Homo sapiens: one gene and its partners. The protein of the gene in region 6 purifies or fractionates together with the protein of the main gene of each other region. This does not show direct contact. Each region holds a gene or a part of one and is shown on either strand. Other genes may lie near its edges. The genes, in order: ERN1, SPDL1, NFU1, SEPTIN2, MVD, HMGCS1 and NMD3.

What was found.
Region 1: the proteins of HMGCS1 (region 6) and ERN1 purify together in Homo sapiens (affinity purification with mass spectrometry; one large-scale study listed by BioGRID and IntAct). This does not show direct contact.
Region 2: the proteins of HMGCS1 (region 6) and SPDL1 fractionate together in Homo sapiens (co-fractionation; one large-scale study listed by BioGRID). This does not show direct contact.
Region 3: the proteins of HMGCS1 (region 6) and NFU1 fractionate together in Homo sapiens (co-fractionation; one large-scale study listed by BioGRID). This does not show direct contact.
Region 4: the proteins of HMGCS1 (region 6) and SEPTIN2 fractionate together in Homo sapiens (co-fractionation; one large-scale study listed by BioGRID). This does not show direct contact.
Region 5: the proteins of HMGCS1 (region 6) and MVD fractionate together in Homo sapiens (co-fractionation; one large-scale study listed by BioGRID). This does not show direct contact.
Region 7: the proteins of HMGCS1 (region 6) and NMD3 fractionate together in Homo sapiens (co-fractionation; one large-scale study listed by BioGRID). This does not show direct contact.

What each region holds. Positions count from the first base shown.
Region 1 is NC_000017.11:64,046,377-64,050,338, forward strand, and holds part of ERN1 (serine/threonine-protein kinase/endoribonuclease IRE1 precursor), read right to left. Parts: intron 2,827-3,962; coding exon 2,679-2,826; intron 1,610-2,678; coding exon 1,482-1,609; intron 1-1,481. UniProt on the Homo sapiens protein: Serine/threonine-protein kinase and endoribonuclease that acts as a key sensor for the endoplasmic reticulum unfolded protein response (UPR).
Region 2 is NC_000005.10:169,597,043-169,601,004, forward strand, and holds part of SPDL1 (protein Spindly), read left to right. Parts: intron 1-1,433; coding exon 1,434-1,537; intron 1,538-1,929; coding exon 1,930-2,117; intron 2,118-3,962. UniProt on the Homo sapiens protein: Required for the localization of dynein and dynactin to the mitotic kintochore.
Region 3 is NC_000002.12:69,395,379-69,399,650, forward strand, and holds the end of NFU1 (NFU1 iron-sulfur cluster scaffold homolog, mitochondrial), read right to left. Parts: intron 913-4,272; coding exon 868-912; 3' UTR 748-867; downstream 1-747. UniProt on the Homo sapiens protein: Iron-sulfur cluster scaffold protein which can assemble [4Fe-4S] clusters and deliver them to target proteins.
Region 4 is NC_000002.12:241,346,643-241,350,604, reverse strand, and holds part of SEPTIN2 (septin-2), read right to left. Parts: intron 2,472-3,962; coding exon 2,414-2,471; intron 533-2,413; coding exon 431-532; 3' UTR 402-430; intron 1-401.
Region 5 is NC_000016.10:88,656,318-88,660,279, forward strand, and holds part of MVD (diphosphomevalonate decarboxylase), read right to left. Parts: intron 2,404-3,962; coding exon 2,333-2,403; intron 1,713-2,332; coding exon 1,598-1,712; intron 1,266-1,597; coding exon 1,119-1,265; intron 931-1,118; coding exon of another isoform or gene 829-930; intron 1-828. UniProt on the Homo sapiens protein: Catalyzes the ATP dependent decarboxylation of (R)-5-diphosphomevalonate to form isopentenyl diphosphate (IPP).
Region 6 is NC_000005.10:43,299,850-43,303,811, forward strand, and holds part of HMGCS1 (hydroxymethylglutaryl-CoA synthase, cytoplasmic), read right to left. Parts: intron 1-3,962. UniProt on the Homo sapiens protein: Catalyzes the condensation of acetyl-CoA with acetoacetyl-CoA to form HMG-CoA, which is converted by HMG-CoA reductase (HMGCR) into mevalonate, a precursor for cholesterol synthesis.
Region 7 is NC_000003.12:161,227,471-161,231,432, reverse strand, and holds part of NMD3 (60S ribosomal export protein NMD3), read right to left. Parts: intron 1-3,962. UniProt on the Homo sapiens protein: Acts as an adapter for the XPO1/CRM1-mediated export of the 60S ribosomal subunit.

The DNA of each region.
Region 1 (3,962 bases), on a different chromosome or scaffold from region 6:
GAGATACTAAGCATTTAAATCCTGTCCCTTGGTGGGTGAAGGTCCCTTTGTGTGGGTTTTATTCCTGTTCTATATTTTGCGATCAAAATGACCTGGTTAGTTTTCACAAGTCCCTGGAAGACATATGGACTTGAGAATTTTCACATTATGTCCATGGACACAGTGACCAATCCATATGCTACAACATGGAAGACAGCATTAAACTCTTCCCAACCCGATCCATCTGAATGGTTGGGCCAGGCAGCGTCCTCCCTAGGAGGCAGGGACACAGTAGTGAATGCAGCAGTCAAGCACTCCTGTCCTCGAGGAGCTTACATTCTGGGGGCTTCCCTCTGGCCAAGGCCCCAGTCAGACCCCAGGAGAGCATGATGGTCACTTCTCAGTACGGTGCCCACCAAGCTGCACTCTGCCTGGACCCAAGGGGAAAAGCACTGCCCCACAAGCCTGCTTTCAGAGCCACGTGCTGGGCAGGAGGCGTTCGGGTGAGTTATGTTCAATTCATACATGGAAGACTTTGAAAAACACATTACCTCTTCAAAAGTCACCTGACATTGTCACAAAGCTTTAAAACAGTCAAATCACCAAAGGAGTTCTAACTTTGCAGAACCTATTTTAAGCAAAAGGAGATCTGGGCCAAGACTGTGTAAAAGATGATAGAAACAAATACAATATAAGAAAGCACTGAAATTTATGACACTTGGGCTGGGCCTGGTGGCTCATGCCTGTAATCCCAGCACTTTGGGAGGCTGAGGCGGGCAGATCACCTGAGGTCCGGAGTTCAAGACCAGCCTGGCCAACATGGTGAAACCCCATCTCTACTAAAAATACAAAAAAACTTAGGCAGGCGTGGTGGTGCATATCTGTAATCCCAGCTACTCAGGAAGCTGAGGCAGGAGAATCACTTGAACCCGGGAGGCAGAGGTTGCAGTGAGCCAAGATTGCACCACTGTACTCCAGCCTGGGTAACGGAGTGAAACGCTGTCTCAAAAAAAATAAAAATAAATAAATAAGCTTATGACACTTGAATGAAATTATATGATGCCTGAGATTTACTTCGAAATAACCTGGGGTGGGGAGAGGGTGAAGGTTAATATTTATTGAACCTGAGGGATGAATAAAGGAGTGCTCATTATAGCATTTAAACATTTATGTATTATATATTTGGAAATTCCATAATATAAAGCTTAACCATTATGGCACATCCATATGATAGAATACTATGGTCATTGGAATTTTAGAACTTTAACATGAAAGAAACTTAAAATATCATGTACAGTTAAAAAAAGGGATTCTGAAACTGTATATACGGTTAGATCCCAATTATACTTTTATATATGAAGAAAACATTAAAACATCAGCCATGATTATCTTCCAGTTTTAGGGTAATGGGCAATTTATTTTATTCTTTGTCCTTTTCTGTATTTTCAAAATCTGAAAAACATTAAATGAAGACTCTGGATAAAGAGAACAGACGTCTCTACCTGGAAGAACTGGAGCTGCTTCTCTAGGCTCCAGAAGAACGGGTGTTTGAGCACATGCTTCGCTGAGGGGCGTTTCTGAGGATCCATCGCAATCATCTTCTCTATCAATTCACGTGCAATGACGTCTTCTATAAAGGAGGAAAATAAGCAACTCATGACTACCAGTCCAAAGCCACAGTGAAATACCAAAAACTTTAAAAAGCTGCACACCCTCTCATTTATGATTCTATTTACAGGAATTTATTCCAATAAAATAATTAGGAACAGACACAAAACCTCAGCCAAAGAGGTGAGTCCTCACTGCATGGTTTGTGAAGGAAGTGACTGTAAACATCCAGTATCAGAGGCCCAAGTGGATACACTACGGTGCCTCCCTACGCTGGGCCATGAGCTGTTAAAGTGCGGCTGTGACTAAATATGGATTGACGTGGAGAGAGATTCAAGGTGACGCTGAAAAACGTGCATGCTGCAAAACAGTATGCAGGATTTAACTGTATTTTTATAAAATATGCAATCACGTCTAGATAAATGACTGGAATAACGTATATGCAAAGGTATCAATAGCCATCATTCATCCCTGTATAATGGGAATATATGGGCCTTTATGCTAATCTGTGTTTTCTATAATAAGAAAAATTAAGCATAAACAAAACAATAATTTAGTTGTAATTTTTTCAAAAGGCAGCACTGGAGTGTCATGGGCCAATTACCACCCAGGAAAACCTGAAGTCTGGAAGAAAGACTTGTTGCACCCATACCAGGAGACCAGGAGGGTGAGGATAAAGCTTGTCTGTCCCCAGCCCAGCACAGACTGCACCTACTGACCACTCGCCATCCCAAGAGAGAAGACAATTTGTCTTCCCAAATGCCAGTGCAGGAAGGGACCTCTGATTATTCAACCCTCATGTCACCAGGTAGAAAAAGAAGGTCTCCAAAGGGGGCTTTGCCTAGGTCACACAAGTAGTTGGTGACCTGGAGGAACCTTGGAGCATCTCAGCTTTAGAAGGTGGCGCCCCAGAGATAACCCTACCAACCCTCTACCAGATTTGGCACAAGTCTGGAGGTCCTGAGGCCTGCGGGGTGAGCAGCTGGGGCACCACGGCCTCTGTGAGTGCAAAGGTGGCACCAGCCCAGCTCTGCAGGGCCACCTGAGGCAGCTGAGGAGCTGCTCCCAACCCCAACCCCTGGACCGCTCACCGTGCTTCTCTGGGTGCAAGCAGTCAAGGCTGCAGGCACCCAGGAGGATGTTGGCCTGCCGCTGCAGGGACTTGCCAAAAGGGTGGCTGCCCTCAGAGATTACGTAGTAAAAGACGCAGCCTGCAGAAAAGATGTCCACCGTGTAGGTCTGAAAAGAGACATGAGGCGTGAGAGGTCTGGGAGCAGAGTTTTCATCCTCACTCACAGTCAGGGAGGGAGGAGCATTGCTGCTGCTTCTGCCACCTAGAAGGTGTCCTGGGAGAATCAGCTGACATATGTGAGCTGCACAGAGCAGCGAGGGCTAACCTGCAGCACTGCATGGGTGTCAGAGGTCCCAGTGGAGAACCTGGGCTTGGAGCCACCTGGAAGCCCCTGGTTCCCTCTCATGTGAGATGAGGACACTGACAGCATGGGGCTGTTGTCAAAAGAGATGCATTAATATGCAAAAATGGTTGCTTACGACAGTGCTTGGCCCATCAAAAGCCCTCCTGGCTGTTATATATTCCTTACCCCCAACACGAAAGTGCTCACAGACAGGGTCTCTGTGTCGTTGCTTCCCTGCTGTACCCCCAGGGCCCAGAATGGTGCCTGCACACAGTAGGTATCAAAATTGCTAATAAGTGAATAAAACAGCTTATGATTCAAAAACAGCCCTAGAAAGAAACTATCTGACAAGTTACCAAGGAGGTCATGTTTGATGTTAATCCGAGAAAGCCTCTCACTTATCCCATGAAACCATTCTGTGTCTACAGAATAGCTTCCTTCGAGGGAAATGTACGTTTGTGTTTTTTAGCTCATGCTACCTGGGGTGTAATACCAAGGTGGTTCCTGAGCACAGCTTGGGTCCCTGTTAGTAGGCCCTGCCTCTGAGATTCTCCACCAGGTGAAGTGAGGGTCTAGTGTGAGGAAGCAGGGGCTCATCACCTCCCATGCTGGAGGAGACACACCTTGAACAACACAGCACTCTCATTCAGCCTCACAACAACCTTGTGAGGCGAGCAGAGCAAATGCTTTCATCCCCAGATGAGAACGTGGACAGAAAGGTTGCATGACAAGCTCAGGGTCACTGCTGGATGTGATAAACCAGGATGGGACTCAGGTCTTCCAATCTCCAAACCTACCATGCTTTATTCTACCTCACTGGATTTTCCCTTAGGAAGGTGCTGGATTCGGGACAGGAGGAACATGGCCACCACAGCTGGAGCTCGCCCCTGACTCCCAGAGCTCTCTGGGTCTTTCACGCCCCCCACACTCTCTGCAGCCTGCTGTCCCCAGCACAGACAA
Region 2 (3,962 bases), about 130 Mb from region 6:
CATTGCTTGCTTTATTTACTCTGATACTCAAATTGTCCCAGATTTGATAGTCGAAGTGCTCTTACTTGAATATTTCCTTACTCTATGGCACAACAAGGGTTTCCTAGCTCACCTGGCCCACTTCTGGGATTAGCATTTCTTCAAGGAACATTGGTTTATTTTAGTTGAGAATGGTATTTGTGTAAGCATTTGTGTGTGTGTGTGTGTGTGTGTGTGTGTGTGTGTAAGAATTCACCCATGTTTTCTAAATAAGTAGGCAGTTGTCCCAGAGTCATTTGTTAAAAAATCAATCTTGATCCCAGTGATTTGAGTTGACACCTTTATCATACATCAAGTTTCCATATATACTTGAGTCTGTTTCTAAATTTTCTGTCTACGCCATTGGTCTGCTTCTCTGTGTGTCTGTACCACACTGTTTTATTAATTATAAAGGCTTTTAAGTATGTTTATCTGGTAGGACTATTTCCTCACTATACTTTTTATTTTTCAGTATTTTCCTGTCTATTTTTGAATGTTAGCTTTCATTTACAAACATCTTGTCTAGCACCAAAAAAAGCTTGTTGGCTTTCTATTAAAATTGCATGCAATTTAAGATTTTATAAATTGACTTAGGGAACATTGATATCTTCATTAACCTCCTAATGAACTAAAGTTCTAAATGACAAATTTTTGTAAATGTTAATAACCTCTTAGGCATTCTAAATTGTAGCCATTAGTATGTCATAAAATCTTAATTAAGTTTACATAACTTTATTTCTGTGTCTTATAAAAACTGTTGAAAGAACTACAAATTTGGTTAAGTTGGCAGCCTTATGTTTCCATCAGTGGGCTCAGAACTATACTCTGAAAATTATGGCCTTAAATCAGGGGAATTTTATTTATAACCTGAAATTGTTTCAAGTTTTTAAGCAGATTTACCTTTTCTATCCCACTAGAGAAATGTATAGTTTCCATCAGTCTCAGAAGAGCTTGCACTACATTCTTGCCTGGGGTGGGGGGAAGAATCTCAGAAGAGGGGGACACCAGATATAAATGTAAGGCTCTCATCTTCCTTTCATATTTTTCCAGTTTATGGTTTTGTTACAAAGGCCAGAATTTAATCCAGCAGGCATTTGTTTTTCTATTTTCAAAGCCAGGAGAGAGAAGGCAGAGCATGTAGGTAAGGCTAGAAGCCTAGGCCTTGTAGTCAGATTTGGGTTCAGGTTCTCTCTTCTTGGTTTACTTTCATCTGTATTCGGAGCCTGTTTCCTTATCTGTAAGAGAGGAATGTTAATTATTTACCTACTTCAGAAGGCAGATAAATTAAATGGGTAGTTCTTAGCGTAGTACGCCAAGGGATATAAATTCAGGAAGTGATGGTGCTATTATTAATAAACATACACTAACCTTATTTGTTATTTATTTTAAGTAATACAAACTTTTGCTTTTTTAAGAATTTATATGACAGTATGGAATCTAAGCCTTCAGTCGACTCTGGTACTCTGGAAGATAACACCTATTATACAGATTTACTTCAGATGAAGCTGGATAACTTAAAGTAAGTGTCTGGGTTGGTGGATGGAAAGATGAACATGTCACTTGCTTACTATGGTAGTGTCAGTGACTACAAAGTTTTTTTGAAATTGCCAAAGGAAATTTTCCGAAAAGAAAGGTAACAAAAATATCTTTGTGCAGATATTCATGTGTGAATACATTTGAAAGACTATTTCCTCCTTTGTCCATTTCCTTTCAAGAATGCATGAGTATTTTTTAAATTTAACACTACTATTGTTAAGGATTATTTAAATTGTTTATTGTTTCTTTGTTACTAAAAACCCCAGAAAAATGTATTTTTAACTAAGAATTCAAATATGCGATGAAATATTTATACCACTACACTTATTATATGCTGTCTTAATACTCGTTGGTTCTCCTTTTTTATTATCATAGCAAAGAAATTGAAAGCACTAAAGGTGAATTGTCCATACAGCGAATGAAAGCATTATTTGAGAGCCAGCGGGCTCTAGATATTGAGCGAAAACTTTTTGCAAATGAAAGATGCCTCCAGCTTTCAGAAAGTGAAAATATGAAACTGAGAGCTAAACTAGATGAATTGAAACTAAAATATGAACCTGAAGGTATATATGTCTCATATATTTTTGTCTTTTAAATTATGAGTAACCTGAAATTATATCAAATTATTTTCTTACTGTAGTTTTATGCAACTCTATTACAAACTCATTTGTAGTTATATACCTATAGTTAATAAAGCAAATTTATTGTGTAAAATAGGTAGGAAAATTCAGGGAGAACTGGATACTGGGTGTGCCTGAATATAACATGTATCCTTTTTGGATATCTAATTTCATCATACTGTATAGTAGAAACTTGAGATTTGAGACTTTCCCATTTTAAGATTACAGTATTTTATGTCATACCTAATAGTTTAATTATGTTGAAGCAGCTGATGTTTGGAAGCTATACGAGGTAGGACTGTTTATAGAAAATCTAAAGTAATGGAGACTTTAAAAAGGTGGGTCTTTATCTCTGCCTCTGATGGAAGTCTGGAGGAGGCCTTCCAGGACTGGGAAAGCACTCCACGGTATCAAGATTCAGGCTTCTTGTGTTTGTTGGTCTGCTGCCATCCTGTGGAGCAGAATTTAGTCATGCAGCCTCACCTGCTGACAGGAAGGGCTGAGAAATGCAGTCTTGATTCTCAGGGGCCATGTTCCTAACTAAATATTGGGAATTCTTTTATTAAGGAAGAACAGTGAGCCAGGCGTGGTGGCTCGTGCCTGTAATCCCAGCTCTTGGGGAGGCAGAGGGAGGAGGATAGCTGTGCCCAGGAATTTGAGATTTGCTTGGGCAATATAGCAAGACCCCATTCTCCACCAAAATGGGGGGGAAAGGAAAGAACAATGAAACATATTAGGGAATATCTAGCAAGTCTAATGACTGAGCTGGAAAGTAGCCTAACCATACAGTCTCTGCATCTTATATACTACAGAGAGTGAAGTTTACTGTATGTAAATTCAAAAACAAAAGGCCAAGTGTGAAGGAGTCTAAGAATGTGATGGTTCTACAACACCCCTTCCCTAAAAGAGTGTTACATGTTTTAGGTTAAGGATTCTCAACAAGTTTTTGTCCCCGCACTCTGCACATGCCTCAGTCTCTCTTCGTATTGTCTCAGTGAACTGCTATGATTCTCAACAATAGTGGGGAGGTTGCCAAAAATAGGAAGGTTTTTACACAATTTTAAAAGGCTTCTCTTGCTCTTAACTCTTTTTGTTTCTTCCATGATTCTAATAGGCTCCCCTGATTAAGAATTATCCATTATGAATTTCAAACATCTGTTGAACTGAACACAGCAAATAGACAGGAGGCAGGGTAGTGAATCCTGATAATGTGGGTTTCAAAGGAGCAGTGCCAGAAAAAGGGGAAATCATGGTCTAAAAGCAACAATGTAGAGCAAAAACAGCAACCCCTTGTGCTACCAGTGTTCCTCAGACTCCACTAACATTTTGATTTTGAAAATGAAACACATCGATAATGGGCATAGGGAAAAGATATTAGAGCAGTTAATTCAGTGGCTGTGTTTATGACCTGTTTAGATAGAATGATATTAGGCCATGAGGATAGAAGGCATTGCAGTAGTCTTTGATGAGACATGATAGGATTGGACTAGGGAAGTATCCATCATAAAAGTAGTCTGATTCTGCTTATATTTTGTAGGTAGAGCTAACAGGCATATATTACCAATATTCAGAAAGTTTGGCCTATTCTTGTCATTTAATCCTTCTAATACACAATACCAAGTGAAGTGGGTGCTTTTAATCCCCATTTTACAGATAAAATGAAGCTCAGAGAGGTTAAATAATTCCCCAAAGACATGGCTGTCACATACGAGGATTAGGATTCGAACCTGGACTCTGCCGCTGTCTCTTCATCTCCACACTGAGATCTTATGAACCACCTTTTTCAAA
Region 3 (4,272 bases), on a different chromosome or scaffold from region 6:
ATCTTAACCAATAGAAACTGTGTCCAGATTCTGGGAGTTAGTTTTCAAGTTTTTCACCTTTTTTTTTTTTTTTTTTTTTTTTTTTTTTGAGATGGAGTCTCGCTCCGTCCCCCAGGCTGGAGTGCAGTGGCGTGATCTCAGCTCACTGCCACCTCCGCCTCCCGGGTTCAAGCAGTTCTCCTGCCTCAGCCTCCTAAGTAGCTGGGATTACAGGCGCGTGCCTCCGCGCCCGGCTAATTTTTGTATTTTTAGTGGAGACGGGGTTTCACCATGTTGTTCAGGCTGGTCTCAAACTCCTGACCTCGTGATCTGCCCACCTCGGCCTCCCAAAGTGCTGGGATTATAGGCGTTAGCCACCATACCCGGACATTTTTGATTTCTTTTTTTTGGTCTTAAGCAGTTCTTTGCTACTTAATTGGGGGCTAGTAGCCAGATACCATTTTTAAAACAGACTTGTTTAGCTGTTTCTTAAGCTAAAAACTTCAGTAAAAATAGTTTTAGATATTTCACAAAAAGCTATTTTAGAATATTCTAAAAAGCATTCTGTTTCTTCCTGTATGGAAAAAAGTAAATAAATTAGATGGGGGGAAATGTATTTTAAACTCCTTCACACATATGCAAAGAAAGAGCCATGGGAAATGAGGGACAAAAATAAAAATATCCTTGGATAAAATCCACGTGTACAGAAGATGATTCAAGAGGTTATAAATAACTCATATGAGGTAAAGCAAACATGCAATATTTATATATCATTCTCTGAAGAGCATATTTTATTAATCTTCAAGTTCCTCAGCATATTAATAATAAAAACTTGATATATATTATCAACAAGTCTGACTGTTATGCCCAAAGAAAATCCAGATTATTTTAAGGTGAGTTTGCTTCTTTTTCATCTGATTCATCATCCATAACCTAAAACCAAAAAACAAAGACAATTTAAGAATTAAGAAAATGATTAGATTTTGCTGTTTTCCTGATTTTAATATTACTTCTTTACCTGATACACTCTATAATGAGGCATGACAAGCCAGTAAGAATAAATCTATCAACAGCCCCAAAGAACAAGGTTTGAATCATAACCCGGTATCCTAAAAACATAAAAGCAACCCCATCTCTACTGAAAATACAAAAAATTAGCCAGGCGGGCGCCTGTAGTCCCAGCTACTCGGGAGGCTGAGGCAGGAGGATGGCGTGAACCTGGGAAGCAGAGCTTGCAGTGAGCCGAGATCGCGCCACTGCACTCCAGCGTGGGCAACACAGCGAGACTCTGTCTCAAAAAAAAAATAAAATAAAATAAAAGCAAATTAAATATTTGGAAATTAATTAAAGCATTGATCACTTCTCCTTGTCTCAAAGAGGCTACCCATAGCAGAGTCTCAGCTGGGCAGAAAAGACTATAAATAATTAACTGGGGCCAGGCGCGGTGGCTCACGCCTGTAATCCCAGCACTTTGGGAGGCTGAGGCAGGCAGATCATGAGGGCAGAAGATCAAGACCATCCTGGCTAACACAGTGAAACCCCGTCTCTACTAAAAATACAAAAAATTAGCCGGTCGTGGTGGTGGGCGCCTGTAGTCCCAGGTACCCGGGAGACTAAGGCAGGAGAATGGCATGAACTGGGGAGGTGGAGGTTGCAGTGAGCCTAGTGCCTGGTGATAGAGCACTCCAGCTTGGTGATAGAGCAAGACTCCGTCTCAAAAAAAAAAAAACAATTTAACTGGTATTCTCTAGCCATAAGACTAATGTAAATGACTTTTTCTTTTTTTCAAAACCATCTTATTTACTTAAATATATTCTGTGAAGCTATACCAAATTGTTATTTTAAAAACATTTATTTTTATTAAAATGAATCCCCAAGGAAAGTGAAAAACAAAACAAAACAAAAAAACCCCACCATATTAGGAACTAATTATTTTAGTCTTACTGAGATAAAAGATCATTTTAAGCCTCAGGAAAATGTTACAACAGCTATTATCTTTCCATGAGTTAATGTATTACTAAGATAACAGACTAACTCCATTGGAGAAGGAAAAAGTTACATAAACCTAAGAATGTTTTTTTCTCCTCACCACACCTACTACAATTAGATGCCAATTCAAGTTTCTAATCTGAAGGCCAATTCATCACCCTACCCTGGACAATTGAATAAAAATGTTCCTCAGTCAATCCACCAAAGTATCAACTAACATAATTTTTTAAGGCATATAGATGATAATGGAACAAAGTAAGGTTTTTTTTTTTAAAAAAAATCTAGGCCAGGCACAGTGGCTCATGCCTGTAATCCCAGCACTTTGGGAGGCTGAGGCAGGTGGATCACCTGAGGTCAAGAGTTCAAGACCAGCCCGGTCAACATGGCGAAACCCCCATCTCTACTAAAAATATAAAAATTAGCCAGGCGTGGTGGCGCGCGCCTGTAATCCCAGCTACCTGGGAAGCTAAGGCAGGAGAATCATTTGAACTCGGGAGGTGGAGGCTGCAGTGAGCCAAGATCAAGCCATTGTACTCCAGCCTGGGCAACAAGAGTGAAACTACGTCTCAAAAAAAAAAAAAAAAAAAATCCAGATTCTGGCTCTGATCTGAGACAATCAATAGAAAAAGAATTCTTTCATAGGCTGTCTTTTTGGTTGAGTAAAAATTGGTATTTATTCCCAAGAAATTAATATTTTACATCCAATTTCAACAATACCCAATCCAAAAAATTTTGTCAACCAACTCATATTTTAGGCAGAATTATTCCTTAATTTGGAATAATATTCCCAAATACTTAATACAAAGCATGTATAGGACATTTGTAAGGCACACAGCTAGTTGTTGCAGAGGAACACAAAGACTTGGATATGATTTCAAGTCTCTTAGGGAGCTTCCACGTAAACATAAAGCTAAAACAGATACAGAAAGCTACATAAACATAAAGCAAAAACAGAAGCTTTGGACCTGTCAAAGAAGAACTTAATTCCAAGTGGGGGATGGATAAAAACTTCAAAGAGAAGATGTCATGTACTGGACCAAAACGATGGTGTGGAGGCTAAAGCAACTCCATCTTGGATGCTAATCTGCCACATTGACTACCCTCAGTTCTAGGAATGCCTCTAAGTTTTCTACTTAATTCTGCCTTTAGGTCAAAATAATCTTGATGTTATCCTAAACAAACACATACTTAGCATAAATCTTGCCCTTAAGCAAATTATAGGCTATTAGGCAAATAGCATTCTTGCCTTTTCCAGAGGGGCTGACTTCAATTGTCCTACACATATCTTCTGAAGCATGTATACCCATTCCTCCTGGTATATAAGCCCTGAGTCTAGCGGGTAACAATGCAGGAATCCATCATCTTGCAGCTGCCCGATAAATGGCTTCTGTTCCTCAGTCCCTATTAAATGTTTCTTTCTGACCAACTGGATTTGCCAGCCTCTGTCTTCAGCCTCTCAGCTCCCTAAGACTTTGGGGATAGGTCTATATAGACCTGCTCACTGTGGAACAGATGAATTTTAATACTACCCAAGGATGAGTGATTCCCAATGGAGCCCTTAAGGGCACAGAATTACCTGAGGTGGTCAGGCACGGTGGCTCATGCCTGTAATCCTAGCACTCTGGGAGGCCGAGGCGGGCAAATTGCCTGAGCTCAGGAGTTTGAAATCAGCCTGGGCAACATGATGAAACCCCGTCTCTACTAAAATACAAAATACAAAAAATGGTGGCATGTGCCTGTAATCCCAGCTACTCATGAGGCTGAGGGATGGGAACTGCTTCAACCTGGGAGGTGGAGGTTGCAGTGAGCCGAGATAGCGTGTCACTGCACTCCAGCCTGGGCAACAGAACAAGATTCTGTCTCCAAAAAAAAAAAAAAAAAGAATGAATTACCTGAAATTCTGTGGGTTGGAAATTTCTAATTTCCACACATCCCTTCACTCCTTGATAATCTCTCTCCATAAGGCCATGCTTTTTGGTTGAGAATCACTGCAGTGAGACTCATTATTACTGATGACAAGGTGCTGTGTTATACTCCTTAGGTATGTTGGCAAAAAAAAAAATGTTGATATTGTGCTACACGTAAAGCTCTAGAATTCTACTCAGTATAACAACAAACTATGATTTCTTAATGGGCTTCTTGCTTGCATATTTAAGAATACATAGATTAGGCCAGTTGTGTTAATCCTTAATCCCAGCATTTTGGGAGGATCACCTGAGGCCAGGAATTCAAGACCAACTTGGGCAACATAGCAAGACCCCGTCTCTACAAAAAAAAAAAAAAAAAAATTGGTAAATATGATGT
Region 4 (3,962 bases), on a different chromosome or scaffold from region 6:
GCTGTTTTAATAACACGTTTTTATTCCCTTTAAAGAGATGTTTTAACAATTAACAAATTTCCAATAATACAACTAATAAAAGTGCTTTAATACATAATTTCCTTCTAATGTTGGTATTTGCAAGCTTAGAAAATAACCTGCAAATGTACCCCAATAAAATAAAAGTTGAAATTATTTAAAAAAAAAAGAAGAGACAAAAATATGAAAAATCTTTACTAGAAAGTAGGTGGCAAAGTAGTGGCTTCTGTTTTTCAGGAGCAATCTCTCCTTGTTTAAGATTAGTGATGGAGTTACTTCAAAATGCAAAATATTAATGAGGCTTAAGGAGGAACCTGTCATATTTAAGCTGACACAATGTTAGTAACTGCCTGTCTTCCAGGCTAAGGGACAACAGGGCCTACCTCTGACTTCTTGATATGTGCACATCACCTTACACGTGGTGCCCGAGAGCCCCGCCATCGCCATCCCCGCCCTGCATCTGCATCTGCATCTGCGCCTGCATCCTTGCAATCATCTCTTGCATGCGGCGGAGCTGTGAACACACACACACATTATAGGTTTTCAAGGTTTGCTGTCTTTGAACATTATTTCTGGGTGTTCTGTGATTCCTAAAATTTCAACTTCTACACCTTCCCAAAATATGACAGGAGTTATTACATAAAGACTTTTTACCAATCAATAAAAAAAGCAACAGCTAAAGAGAAAATCAAGTAAATGATACGAATATGCAAGCCAAACAGAAACAATAACCAAAGAAAGATAAGACAATATGATAAATTTTCTTAAGACAGAGTCTCACTCTGTCTCCTAGGCTGGAGTGCAGTGGCGCAATCTCGGCTCACTGCTACCTCCGCCTCCCGGGTTCAAGCGATTCTCCTGCCTCAGCCTCCTGAGTAGCTGGGATTACAGGCACACACCACCACGCCCAGCTGATTTTTGTATTTTCAGTAGAGACGGGGTTTCACCACATTGGTCAGGCTGGTCTCAAACTCCTGACCTCGTGATCCACCCGCCTCCGCCTCCCAAAGTGCTGGGATTACAAGCGTGAGCCACCGCGCCCGGCCAATATGAGAAGTTTTCTAACCTAAAAGGAGGGAAAGAGACTGATGACAGTGAGAAATGCAAAGTAAAGGGGAATGGGAATGAATCAGCTTTTCTGGAGGGCAATGAAGGCCTCACAATAAAAATAATATATATACATACATATACATATATATATATTTTTTTTTTTTTAAAGGGATGGGATCTTGCTCTTTCACCTAGGCTAGACTGCAGTGGCACAATCATAGCTCACTGCATCCTTGAACTCCTGGGCTCAGGGGATCCTTCTGCCTCAGCCTCCCGAGTAGCTGGGACTACAGGTGCATGCCGACATGCATGGCTAATTATTTTTTAATTTTTTTCTAGAGAACGAGGGGGGTCTCACTCTGTTGCCCTAGCTGGTCTTAAACTCCTGGCATGAAGTGATTCTCCCACCTTGGCCTCCTAAAGTGCTGGGACTATAAGTGTAACCCACAGTGCCTGGCCAAAAATAGTAAATGTTAATTCATCTTTATCCTTATCATTATGATTTGTATGTGTTCAGAAATGCCTCCAGGAAAGTATTATAAAACATTTAAATTTTCTTCAGGTGACTTTGTGGTTATTTTTAACATTTAAATATTTGATCAATATTGAATTAATTTGACCAAAGAAGTATTTTCTTTTTGTTTCCAAAAGGCTAGCCCATTATGATCCTATTGTTTACTGAATAATGTGTTTGCCTTCCAAAACTCCAGCAGATCTGAATGCCACCTTTACAACAGAGCATATTTCCATATTTATGATCTACTTACAAATATCAGTGACATTACTAAATTGTCTCCAAAGTCTTTCAGCTAAATATATGAAGCATCATGTATGCTATGTAAATATCCATGTTTATTATTATATATAGATGTGTATATATAGTAATAAAGTAGTTATATGTATCCTCCTCAACAAATTAAAAAAAAAACTATAAACTTTAAGTTAATTACCAATGATATCTACGGATGTAAACAAAACACCTTCAGTCACAAGAATAGTACTTTTTGGCTGGGCACGGTGGCTCACACCTGTAATCCCAGCACTTTGGGAGGCCAAGGTGGGCAGATCACCTGAGGTTAGGAGTTCGAGACCAGCCTGGCCAACATGATGAAACCCCGTCTCTACTAAAAATACAAAAACAACTAGCCAGGCATGGTGGCGGGCACCTGTAGTCCCAGCTACTCGGGAGGCTGAGGCAGGAGAATCACTTGAACCCGGGAGGCAGAGGTTGCAGTGAGCCGAGATCACGCCACTGCACTCCAGCCTGGGCAATGGTGCAAAACTCTGTCTCAAAACAAACAAAACAACCAACCAACCAACCAACCAATAGTACTTTCCTACTTACCTCAGCTTCTTTTTCCAGCAAGATCTGGTCTTTATTCATGTCCTCATTCTCCACTTTCCTAAGAATCGAAAGAAATCAGAATCATAACACTGCAACAAATAGTTATTTGCTACCCCCCCAAAAAATTCTACTTTAAAATTTAAAATGACATGTATTTATCATTTCTCTTTTTATATTGAGATGGTGTCTCACTCTGTCGCACGGGCTGGAGTGTAGTGGCATGATCTTGGCTCACTGCAACCTCCACCTCCTAGGTTCAAGCAATTCTCCCACCTTAGCCTCCTGGGTAACTGGCATTACAGGCACGTGCTACCACGCCCAGCTAATTTTTTTTGTGTTTAGTAGAGATGGGGTTTTGCCACGTTGGCCAGGCTGGTGTTGAACCTCAAGTGATCCGCCCACCTTGGCCTCCCAAAGTGCTGGGAATACAGGCATGAGCCACCACGCCCAGCCTATCATTTTTCTAATTAAAGATATAATGAATAAAAAGGGAACAGAATGATTTTAAAAAGTTCGAACAACATGAAATGGAACATTCAAGAGACTTTTCTTACTCTAAGCTTGAGCGACAACACTTGCTGTTACCCACTCAAAAATAGGTATTATCTGAAGAATTTGCTTTGAGATGTTATTCTTTATTAATGCGAATGTAGTCACCACATTTAAGGAGCAGGATCTGCGTGAGTGAACGAGGGGCAAAGGGTAAGCTCCCCAAGCACACCTGAGAACTGTGCTCTGCAAAGCACACTAATCTCCATCTCAGGGCCAGCGCCTACTCAGCTTCCAGAGGGTGGAATTTTCTTGCTGCCTCTAAAATCTTTCTTAATGTCTCATTTCCAAACTCATAATTAGACTTCAATGTGTACAACATATGTATCTAGAAATCCATCAAATTATTAGAATGTGAGAATTTTAATGAATTACAACACAGGAAACTTTTGTTGTTGAGACAGGGTCTCACTCTGTTGCCCAGTCTGGAGCGTGGTGGTGCGACCATAGCTCACTGCAGCCTGGACCTACTGGGCTCAAGGAATCCTCCCCCTAGTAGCTGGGACCACAGGCATGCACCACCACATCTGGCTAATTTAAAAAAAATTTTTATAGAGGCGAGGTCTCCCTATGTTGCCAGGGCCGGTCTCAAACTACTGGGTTCAAGTGATCCACTTGCCTTGGCCTCCCAGAAAACTTATATAAAAACATATTAGAATGGTTAAAAAGAAAAGGTGAGTGAGGATGGCTGCAGGACTTTGCGAGGATCGAAGCTGCTGCTTCAACGGCCACTGGCTGCTTGGATGCCACTCATCCTGGCCTCACCCTTAACTCAGGTGCTGCAGTTTCCTAATGGCAACAAGTTTGTCCTCACGTACAGAGTGATGCTTTTGAAGGAGAACTCGACACAAGCCTCTGGCCTTTCCATCTAAAGTTTTTGTTTGTTTTTTGAGACAGGGTCTTGTTTTATTGCCCAGGATAAAGTGCAGTGGTGCAATTATGGCTCACTGCACCTCCCAGGCTCAACTGCTCCTCCCAACTCAGCCTCCCGAGTAGCTGG
Region 5 (3,962 bases), on a different chromosome or scaffold from region 6:
GATTCAGGGAGGGTCCTCAGAGCTGCCTGCGCTGTGCTCCCTGACAGCTCACCGCCCCAGGAACGTCCCACACCCCACGGCAAATGGGGATTTCCAGATGACAGGGCTTCTGGGCCATCAGCCTTTGAGGCCAGCATTCACCGGCCCAGCCGTCTGTCCCCCACCTCCGCTAGTTCCACTCTCGGACACTCTCTGTTCACGGCCTGCAGAGCTTGCGGCCCGCGACAAGGGCAACAAAAGGTACCTGCGGCAGAGCAGGAAGCCCCATGGAAGGCGGGAGAAAGGCCCCCGAGGACACCCAAGCTGGGCTTTGAGGGTGGGAAGGAATTTTAAGGCTGTGTGGGGCAGGGACCGATGCCAGGACAGAGCTGGACTCCACAAGACGCGCCCCCTGCCCACCCAGCACGGGAGCCACCTTCTCCCCTCCTCCCACAGGGCTCCAGCAGGGCAACCCCACCTCCAGGTCTGGTCACCCACCCTGGTCACCGAGGGTGGTTCAGGGAAGGCGCAGGAGCCCAGGTGGGCCAGGAAGCGTCACCCCTGGAGTTGAGGGGTGAAGATGGTGTGAGACCACCACCGGGGGGACAGGCTCTGACAGTGGGTGGGAAGCTGCCAGCAAGTGGCCTGGGGCCAGCAGAGAGCTGGGTCCAGCGGGGCCTGCAACCAGCTGTGCCCATTGGAATCCTCAGTTACGTGAGCCACAAAATCATCGCTATTTTAGGGCTGAGCCAGTTTGAAGTGGTTTCTATCACTGACAATCTAGAGGGGCTCCACATACAGCAACGGGAAGATTTTTTTATTTTTTGTAGAGATGGGGGGGGGTCTCACTATGTTGCCCAGGCTGGTCTTGAACTCCTGGCCTACAGTGCTTCTCCCCCATCAGCCTCTTAAGTACTGGGATTACAGGCGAGAGCCCCACGCCAGCTGCAACTGGAAGATGAAAATGTTCAGATGTGCTCTGGGAAGAGACTGAACAACTCCAGAGAGGCCAGGGAGGCCTGGGGTGAGGGGATGCTCTTTTAGCCACGCCCAGCAGTGGGCTCCCTGACCCGGGAAGAGCATGAAGTGGCTCCTGCGCCCACAGCCCAGAACCCCTGCGGGTCTCTGTGGGCACCCACCTAGGCAGGCATAGCCCGCCGCTGAGGAGGCCAGGCCCGCAGCCGTGGGGAAGTTGTTCACCGATGCCACGTGCACCTTGCAGCTGAGGCTGGAGGGCAGCGGGTCCCCATCCCGTGAGTTCCTCCGCTTCCGGGCCAGGCAGCGGACTGCAGAGACAATGAGACAGCGTGTGGCCCAGCCGTCAGCACCCTGCCCGCCCTGCTCCTGCCCACCTGCCCGGGGTCACAGCTGAACACCAGGCCTCTGCCTGCCAGACTCCTCGTGGAGAGTTTCTTACCCGGGAAAACCCCAGACTGACCCAAGCCCAGCTGGTCATTGAGGTGGGCCACTGCCCTGGAGCTGGCGGCCCAGCGGGCATGTCTGGTTCCCAGCCACCCCGCCTGCTGCCTCAGGAGGGGCACAGAGGCAGAAGCACTTTCTGGATGCTCGGACCCTGCTGACAACAGGGAGGGATGGGCTTATGGGGACCCCAGCTCACTCTCCCGCAGGCAGGCCTGCAGCCGCGGCTGCCCCACATCCTCCTCCCGGCCATTCAGCCAAATCCGGTCCTCGGTGAAGTCCTTGCTGATGACGGCTGTTGTGGTGGTTTTTAACTGAAAAGGAAACCCAGGGCCACCTCAGAGGCCAGCATTGAGGACCGATGCCAGCCAGGTACCCCTTTCTACTGAGAGAGCCTCATGGCTGCCCACTCGAGCAAGGTCAGCCCTGCTGAGGGCAGGGGGGGAAAGGCCAGTCTCAGCTGGGCAGTGGGGAAGCCCGTGGGGGATGAAAGCGTGGGCCACACCTTGTGGAGCAACCAGGCCTTATCCTGAATAAAGAGACGGGGACTCCCAGGGGAGCCCCTGGGGCACGGTGTGCGCATGTGTGACGAGACCTGGGGGCACATGTGTGCTGTGCTCAGCTCTCCTAATACTGGGAGATGGAACAGACACTGCGTGCTGGCTGGGAGTCGTCGCTAGGCCATCTCATCCTAGCCTTTAGGTAAAAAAGTACCAATTTTTTTTTTGTTTCAGAGACAGGGTCTCACTCTGTCACCCAGGCTGGAGTGCAGTGGTGCGATCATGGTTCACTGTGGTCTCCAATGCCTGGGCTCAAGAGACTCTCCCCAAGTGCTGGGATTGCAGATGTGAGCCACCATACCCAACGGGTACCAACTGTTCTACAAATGTTCTGGAAATGGCACTGTGGTGTTTAGTCGTCAGTCCACACATACCTGGTCCTGGTGCAGAGTGACGCTCAGGGAGGAGTTGATGGGCAGAACCAGCTCTTCATCGCGCTTGCCCCCTGTAATGAACAGCCAGGGCCAGGCCGGTGGGCTTCCCGGCCCACCCTCCCCCAGTGTTCCCCACAGGTGCCCCCACCCCCCACCCACGGCCCCCATCCGCCTCAGTCCCGTCTCTCACCGCACAACCTGTGTGCCCCTCCTCCTGCCAGACCCCGGCCTGCAAGAACTGCTCCCACCCCACTGAGCTCAGGCTCCCAGAGCAGAGCTGGAGGCCAGCCAACCTCCGTCCCCGCTCCCCATTCCTTCATCGCTTCTACTCCAGCATCCGTGAGTGCCCAGGTGCGGATCGCTCCCACCGCGGCCTGCCTCCCCTCCACCTTCCCAAACAAAAGGAGCCCAGCTCTGAGAACTCCTCACATCTCACTGCTCATATGCCCCAGGAACATCCAGGATAAACCCCTTTCTGCCCAGCACGGCCATGGGACAGCACGTGAAATCAAACTTCCAGAAAGCCCGAAAGGAAACGTTTGCCCTGGGAGCGCTGCGTGGTGCTTCAGCTGAAGTCTTATTCCACGGCGGCTTCGCTAAGCACACCATCTGCTCGGTTTTGTGCGAGGGGAGGTCTCTGAGGATGGCGGACAGTTCCAGGGGTGATAAACGCGGACACCTGGCAGAGAACCACGCCCTGCAGCTCGCGAGGCTCTTTCACGCACAGCACTGAGCGGCCCCCCTTGCAGGCGGACGCCGCTGCCCTGACAGGCCGGGCGAACCTCTGCTTTCAGGAAGGTGGGCCAGGGGACTTCTCCCGCTTCCTCCCACTGGGGACAACTGAGACCCTGGACATCACAGGTGAGACTCTCACGGGTGACAGAGGGCGGCTGTGGGACAGTGCAGGGGGAGCCCGGGGCTTTCTTTTCTGCTTGCCCTAGACCTAGCCCTGCAGAAGCTGGAACTGCCAACCAAAGCCAGCCCTCCCTAGCAGGACCAGGAAGGGCAGCCTAGCAACACAGAAACAGACTCCTGGCCGGGCGCGGTGGCTCACGCCTGTAATCCCAGCACTTTGGGAGGTCGAGGTGGGCAGATCACCTGAGGTCGGGAGTTTGAGACCAACCTGACCAATATGGTGAAACCCCATCTCTACTAAAAATACAAAAATTAGCCAGGCTGTAGTGACGCACGCCTGTTATCCCAGCTACTCAGGAGGCTGAGGCGGGAAAATCGCTTGAACCTGGGAGGCGGAGGTTGCACTGAGCCGAGATGGCACCACTGCACTCCAGCCTTACTCCAGCCTGGCAACAGAGGGAGACCCTTTCTCAAAAAAAAAAAAAAAGAAAAGAAAAAAAGAAACAGATCCCTCCCACACTCCAGGCTGGAACAGTGCCCCGCCCCCTTTCCCTCCCTGAAGGAGTGGGGACTTTCACCTCCCCAGGAGTCATTGGAGAGCACACGGGAGACTGGACTCCCCTGACCTGCCGGCTCTTGTCAGAGGCCAAGCAGACACTCAGGAATTCCTGAGGGCCTGGTGGGGATGGGACAGCGTTGGTGGGGAGGGGAACCTGGACTTCTGCCTCCTTATCTTGAGCCAGCACCCCCTCCTCCACCAGCGCGCTATCAAAAA
Region 6 (3,962 bases):
GGTTGTATTAGTCAGGAAAAGAAAAATTACTATAGATATTTCAAACAGAGGGGAGTTTTAATGCAGGGAAATAGCTACAAACTTGTTGGCTGGGCTGGAAGAACAAAGCGGAAAAGGTGGTTCTCTGATCCCATGAGCCTGCACTCCTGCTGAAGCTGCTGGAGCTACAGTACTAGTACCTCTGCTGCTGAGCTGGAACCCAGAGACCCAAAGTCCCACTGTTGGTGCTGCCACTGACAAGAACAAGAGAGGTACCTTCTTCCCACCTTCTAATATTTCTTGAGTACTTCCAATATTTCTTGAGTACTTCCATCAGCCCTCTAACCAGAACCCAGATGGCATAAGAACCAATGAAATGTAATTGTGAGGCTTTGAAGAGTGGCACAGCTCCTCAGTTTTAGAGAAAGAATCCTAAAACCTAAAATTCTACAACTCAATTTCCTTTTTAGGTATGACATCATTGGATGGTGCTACTTAGGTGGCAGAATTTCATTGACCCAAAGGTCTTGGGTTATGAGTTACCTGGGCCGAACTGATTCATGAACATTCTGTATGACTTGTTTGTCAACCCATCACTAATTTGATACTTAAAAATGAAAGTCAAATCCTGTATTTATGTCATTTGTCCTCTGCTGCTCTGCAATTAAAGGTCTTAAGGGGCCAGGTGCAGTGGATCATGCCTATAATCCTAGCACTCTGGGAGGCTGAGGCAGGAGGATCACTTGAGCCCAGGAGTTCAAGACCAGCCTAGGCAACATAGCAAGACTCTGTCTCAACAAAAAAAATTTTTTTAAAATGAGCTGAGCATGGTGGTGCATGCCTGCAGTCCCAGCTACTAGGGAGGCTGAGGTAGCAGGATCACTTGAGCCCAGGAGTACAAGGGTGTAGTGAGCTGTGATTGCACCACTGCACTCCAGCCTGGGTGATGGTGAGACCTTGTCTATAGAGAAAGGAAAAAAAAAAAAAAAAAAGAAAAGACTTAAGGGATACCAGTTGTATCTTCCTTCCAAACAGAAGAATCTTTTTTTTTTCTCATTCATCCAACCAATGCCAACATGTTACATACTAAACATTAGGGATGCTTAATGGGAGACTTCCTTATCCTCTCGAATATTCACTATTTTATGGGACAATAAGAGAAAAACACATAATAATAAACAGGTAACAACATTGAGAACCACATTATATAATGGAGAACTACCTAACCCAGCCTGGTGGTAGGGCAAGGAGTGTTAGGAAAAGCATCCTGGTTATAGGGGCCTGACTTGAGCCCCAGGAATGGGTAGGAGTAAGCAGTAAAGCACTGAAGAAATGGAGGGTAGTAGATTTTCAACAGAGTGGACACCATGAAGAAAGGCAAGCTACAAGGAATTACAAAAAACTTTACTTGTCTATTGGAATGAAATGTGAGCTGAGTGGATCAGGTAAATAATAGATTAGAATAACTAGGTAAGGGTTAGGTCATGAAGGTTCTGGTATGCTGATGTTGAGGGCTTCAAATTTATCATGAAGATAGTAAGAAGCCATCGGAGAGTTTAAGGAATAACATGGTGATATTAGTTGTCAGGTCAGTGTTTTTCCAACTCCGGAATCAATTTAGTGGATGGCAAGCACACATTTAAAAAAATGAAACAGAAAAGAATACAAGATATAAGATTGCATGGCACAGGGTAAATGTAAAGATTTTTCTTGAATCAACCTTTTGTTTTAATTATTCATACATATATAAAGTATACATAAGTTGCAATACAAAGTGTATTTTTACTGGGGGCCACAGTCAAAAAAGTTTGACAGCCACTGTTTTATCCTCACTAATGCTGTTTTACAGTCACTGGTGCTGTGAATGGATGAGTTAGGAAGCTGACATGGCAGTCCAGATAAGACATGGGTCATGAACTAGAGCATTTACTACATGTGGAGCGAAGAGGAACAGCCTCCAAAAACATGGAAAAAGCAAAAGAACTGGCAGAAACTGTAACTGACTAGATGTTAGGGAAAGAAGAAAATGTATACAATGACTTCCAGATTTCCATCCTCAAGTGTTTTATGACTTGACAAGCACACTGTCAGATACACTAAATGAACAGAGATCCTCTCCACTTTGTTCTACTCCACTTCTTCCACACAAACCCTGTTTACTTTATGCCCTTTTCCCTGGTAAGTGGAGTTCAGCCAAACCAGCGCTCAGAACCACCACTGAGGAAGTGAAGAGATCAAGCTCAGACAAGCTGCTTTCGTTCCTGTCATTTCACCAACATCTCCATACATTTTTCCAGTTTGGTTTTCCTATCTACTTCCTTCCTATATGGGACTTAACACAAGATTCTTAACTTTCATGTATGCAGTTTATACTAGAAAACACACAAAGAGAACTACACTGAAGTCAACATTAAGGATAAATGCTAAATACTACCCAATCTTTCCCCATCTTACAACTACTTACCTACATAACCCTCCCTCTACCCTTTACTCTCAAATTATTATATTCTTTATCCAAAAACATTTAGTGCTTTCTTCAACAACCCACCTCGTGCTTCTGCTTATTGAAATCCTTTATAGCCCTAGATCACATAGGTCACATTTTACCCATGAAACCTTTCTAAATTACCTTTTGCATTTCTTGCCTATCCTTCTACATCATCATACTTCGTCAATTAAAGTCACTTTTTTGGGTAACATTTCAGAAATTGGGATTCCTCTTACAATTGCTATCAGACAGAAGCCAATTATGATGTTGTCATTGCTTACACATGGGAAAATAACAAAACTGCCAGCATGACATTTGCATATGACAGTCAACAGCCTGAAAGAAATTCCCAGAAATGATACTGGAGCATTCATTTCACCCTCTAGGAACCAAATGGACTGGGAAGGAAGTAGAAGATGGGGAATCCCTAAGCAGCAGTCAAAGTAGGCTGGCTTTGCATAATTGCAAAGCTGAAGGCCAGCACCAAAACCTTCGCATTCTTTTTTGGGATCTTGAAAGGAATGCTACATCACCAATTCTCTTGGCGGCACAGAGGATGTTTAACGGAAAATTACAGGTATTAACAACTCTGACTCCAAAAACAATTCAGAAGGCAGACTCTAAATATGTGAAATTTAGCAATTCCTTATGTGTTTTTTCACTTGTGTTTTCCATCTTATTGAATGTGCAAGTGACATATGACAAAAATCTATGTCTAACTCTAAAAGAGCTCTTTAAAAAATTCTAAGTAATCAAAAAAGCATTGTATCTTAATTTAATTGGCAATGAAGCATCTTAAATTTATTACATCCTAGATTCTTTAGATAGTACGAAATATAGCATTCAGTGCTTCAACTGTGTTACTTCCCAAATATCTGCCTGAATTATGGATTGAAATGTCTGGGTTTCCCCACCAAATTCATATGTTGAAGCCTTAACTCTCAATGTGATGGCATTTGGAGATGGGGCCTTTGGAAAATAATCAGGTTTAGATGAGGTCATGAGAATGGGGCCCTCATGATGGGATCAGTGCTCTTATAAGAAGATAAAACGAGAGCTTGCTCATGCTGTCATACTCTCTCTATGCCATGTGAGGACACGGGCAATCCAGGAGGAGAGCCCTGATCGGGAACCAACCACGCTGGCACCCTGACTTCCAGACTGCAAACCTATGAGATCATAAATGTCTGCTGTTTAAACCACCTACTCTATGGTATTTTGCTGTGGCACCTAAGCAGATTAAATAGTCTGGTCACCTCAACTAAGTCCAAGCTCCTTAAGGTCTCCTCATGTCTTAGACTACTGTATGGCCCATTTTACCAGACATAGCATATATACCGCTGCTACTCAATTCCACAATGGAAAGAAAAACTCCTAAACACAACAGTCTACTTCCGAATTATATCCTCTTGATTCCTAAATTACTGGCCATATTTTTGTATTCAATACAGGAAAAACAATGTCATCACCAACATTCAGGGACAGGGGCATAAAG
Region 7 (3,962 bases), on a different chromosome or scaffold from region 6:
TCTCACTCCATTCTTTGAGTTCTTCTTCTCCCAAAATATTATCCACCTTCCTATCTCAGTCACTCATATGCCTCTATTACCAGTAACTGCAAACCCTCCAAACTATCAATTCCAAACATCCTACTCCCTGACTACCACCTCCCATCTTTCCAGCTTATTTCCTCTAGTTCCTGGGCACCAAATATCTTTCAAGCTAATATAATGGACAATCCATTCATCCTACCAACTTTATTCCTCATTCCTCCTCACTAGCTTCAAAATCAATAATCAAAATTATTCTCATGTACACACTCAATTTCCTTGTTCCCTCTCTTATTTCACCTTAGCCACTAGGCTAAATTATAAATTTGGTTAAATCCAGTGCTCTGCCTGCTCTATGCCTTGACTATGTGGCTGACAGAACTACAGAAATAGATGCACACCACAGTGACTAGTCTAAACTTGTAACAGTAACCCTCAGCACTGCCCAGCACCCATCCAACACTGTCCTGGTGCATTTCCTCTAGTTCTAGAGGACTATTTCATATCTTCCGCTCTCTCCTCAAACATCTATCTAACAGCTCTTCCCACATAGCTACTGCCCACGCTTCTGTTTTCTCCAGTACAAAAGAAGGAACCAGAGGAGAATTCCCAGAAGCTCCCACTCAACACCTTCCCTGCTGTTACCACAGATGAATTATCCATACTCCCATCAAGATCAACCTCCAGAATGCCCCTCTAGAGAGCAGAGATCTTTACTTTGTTCCATGAAATATTACAGCCTCCCAAAATGGTGCTTGGTGAAGAGTAAGTGCTGAATACTTGTTGAATGAAGGAGTGAATTAACAAATAAATGTATTCTTTCACTATGTACTATATCTCTTTTCCACTTATTGAGGCCACCCCCCAGCCAATTATTCTTCTCCCTGCAATTTCACAAAAATTTCCCTCCGTACTCTAACACTCCCAGAGAGCTTACAAATACAGTTATATATACCATCTTAAGAAATGTATCCTGGCCAAGCACAGTGGCTCATGCTTGTAATCCCAACACTTTGGGAAGCTGAGGCAGGAGGATCGCTTGAGCTCAGGAGTTCAACACCAGTCTGGGTATATTGTGAGATCTCTGCTCTACAGGGCCAAAAAGAGAGAGAAAGAGAGAGATCTCACCTCTAGTAAAAATAAAAATCAGCCAGGTGTGGTGGTGCATGTTTGTAGTACCAACTACTTAGGAGGCTGAGGCAGAAGGATCACCTGAGCCCAGGAGTTTGAGGCTGCAGTGAGACATGACAGCGCCACTGCACTCTAGCCTGAGCAATAAAGCAAGACCTTATCTCCAAAAAATAAAATAACATAAAAAGACAAGTGTCCCTTCCCCAACTTCCCCTTCAACCACTGCCCCATTTCTTTGTTTTCGTTTACAGCAAATCTCAAAAGAACTGTCTATCTTCCTTCTCCCATTTTAATTTCTATTTAAATGACATCTTTACCACCACCACTAAACAGAAATTGCCCATGTTATTAAGGTCGTCCACATTACTAAATCTACAGAACTCATTACTTGACTCATCAGCTGCAAATCACATAGCTACTCACTCCTTTCTTCTTAAAACACTTCCCTTTCCTCCCAGGACATCACACTCACCCTGTTTTCCTCCTACCTCCTAGCAGCTCCTTTCAGTCTCCTTTGCTGATTCCTCCTCATTACCCAATTATTTCTTCATCATTACCCATTAAAGGAATGATTCCAGGATTCAGTCCTCCAGTTTCTTTCCTTCTCTATGTAAACTCCTGAAATAATCTAATCCAATTCATGACCTTAAATACTATCTATATCCTAAATTCATTATCTCTAGACTGGACCACTCATTGGCTTATTTATCAACCTGCCTACTCAGTATTTCTACTTAAGTGTCTAGTAGACATCTAAATACCAGTTACAGATGAACTCTCATGCCCCCTACCCAGTGACTTGGCTGCTCAGGTCACGAACAGTGGAAGGCATCCTTAACTCTTCTGTCTCTTACAAAAACACATCCAGCTACATCAGTAAATGTTACTACCTTAAAAATAGATCCAAAATCTGTCCACTTCTTACCACCTCCATTGCTGATCCAAAACCATTTCTCATGATTATTACAAAAACTTAAACACCTTTACCTCCCTTACAACCATTCTAAAAACAGCAGCCAGAGGAATACTAATAAGTCATGTCATCTCACTACTCTGCCCTTCACCCTCTATACTCCTTACACTCAGAGTAAGAAACAGCCCCTATAAGGGCCTACAAGGCCAGACACACTGTGGCCTTCCATGACTTTTCTGGACTCTATCCCCAACTACTTTTCCCCTCACCACTCCGTTCTATTCACACAAGTATGCTCTTGCTTTTGGTCTCTACATTTGTTTTCTTTACCCCTAATGCTCTTCCTCCACATTTCTGCACAGCTTCCTCCCTTACTGTAATCTTTAGTGTTTACTCAAATGTCACCCTATCAGTGAGCCCTCCCCTAAACACCCTTACTTTAAATTTCAACTCTTCCATGCACAGTTCTTATCCTCTTCCTAGCTCCTTTCTCCACAGAATATACCTTTTAATATACCATGTAATATATCCACCTATTTTGATCGCTGCATACTAACATGCTGCTCCACACTGGCATGTTAGTGTGCAATTAGAATACACGCTTTCTAAGACAGGGATTGCCTTATTCACTGCCATATCCCCAACACCAAAAGCAGTTTGGCACAGAGTTGGTACTTAATAAACATCTGATGAATTAATTAATGAACTGTTAAGACTCACTAGACATTTGACAAAAACCCCAAGTATAAAAGCAAAAAACCAAGACACACAAAAAACTGACTTCATAAAAAAACAGAGACAAATGAGGGAACAGAAAGAAACAAAAAAAGTCCTATTATCAAAATCTTCAGAAAAACTTAAAAAAAATGCATCAAGAACATGAAAGACTCTGGAACTTAAAAACATTACTACTGGAAAAAAACAATTCATTAGAAAGATTAGAAGATAAAGTAAAAATCACCAAGAACAGAGGGGAGCGAAAAAAACCAAAAAGGTTTTTTAAAATATGAAGGGAAAAAGACAAAGTTTTATGCCAGAAGCGCCAAAAAGTGACCATCAGAAATTTGTGGGGTTGGCTGGGACCTAGTAGGAAAATAAAGGCAGAAATTTCAAAGAACTATTACATGAAATTTTATTAGAGCTTAAAGGAGAATCAGAAAAGTCTTCAATCTGAAAGAGTCAATTTCAATTAAAAACATGGTAGAAGTGAGTCATAAAGCTTAAAATAAAGAAAACTCATAGTGTCAATCACTTTCAATTTTATATCAGGAAATAAACTGTACTTTAAACAAACTATTTTTTTTAATACATTTATGCACTGACTTTCAGTGACAGGCACAAATATTTTATTTCCAGATCAATAATGACAATAAAAAGAAACCAAATAACATAGCCCTAATATTATAATCCCAATTATGTTTAGTGATGGTTTTACATAAAAATTTCCGTTAAAAAATTATACATGAGATTCTCGATAAATAACAAAGGAAAAAAATTAAATTCTGTCTTTTTAAAGCAAAAAGATATTTTTACTTTTCATAAAAAGAATATATATAACTTTAAAAAGTGTTTGTAGTGGGGTGCTACTGGCAACAATAGTAACATTTAATAGTTACTTTCGAGGCCAGCATGGTGGCTCACGCCTGTAATCCCAGCACTTTGGGAGGCCGAGGCAGGCAGATCACGAGGTCAGGAGTTCGAGACCAATCTGGCCAACATAGTGAAACCCTGTCTCTACTAAAAATACAAAAAATTAGCCAGATGTGGTGGTGTGCGCCTATAATCCCAGCTACTTGGGAGGCTGAGGCAGGAGAATCGTGTGAACCCGGGAGGCAGAGGTTGCAGTGAGCCGAGATCACACCATTGTACTCTAGCCTAGCCCAGGTGACAGTTCAAG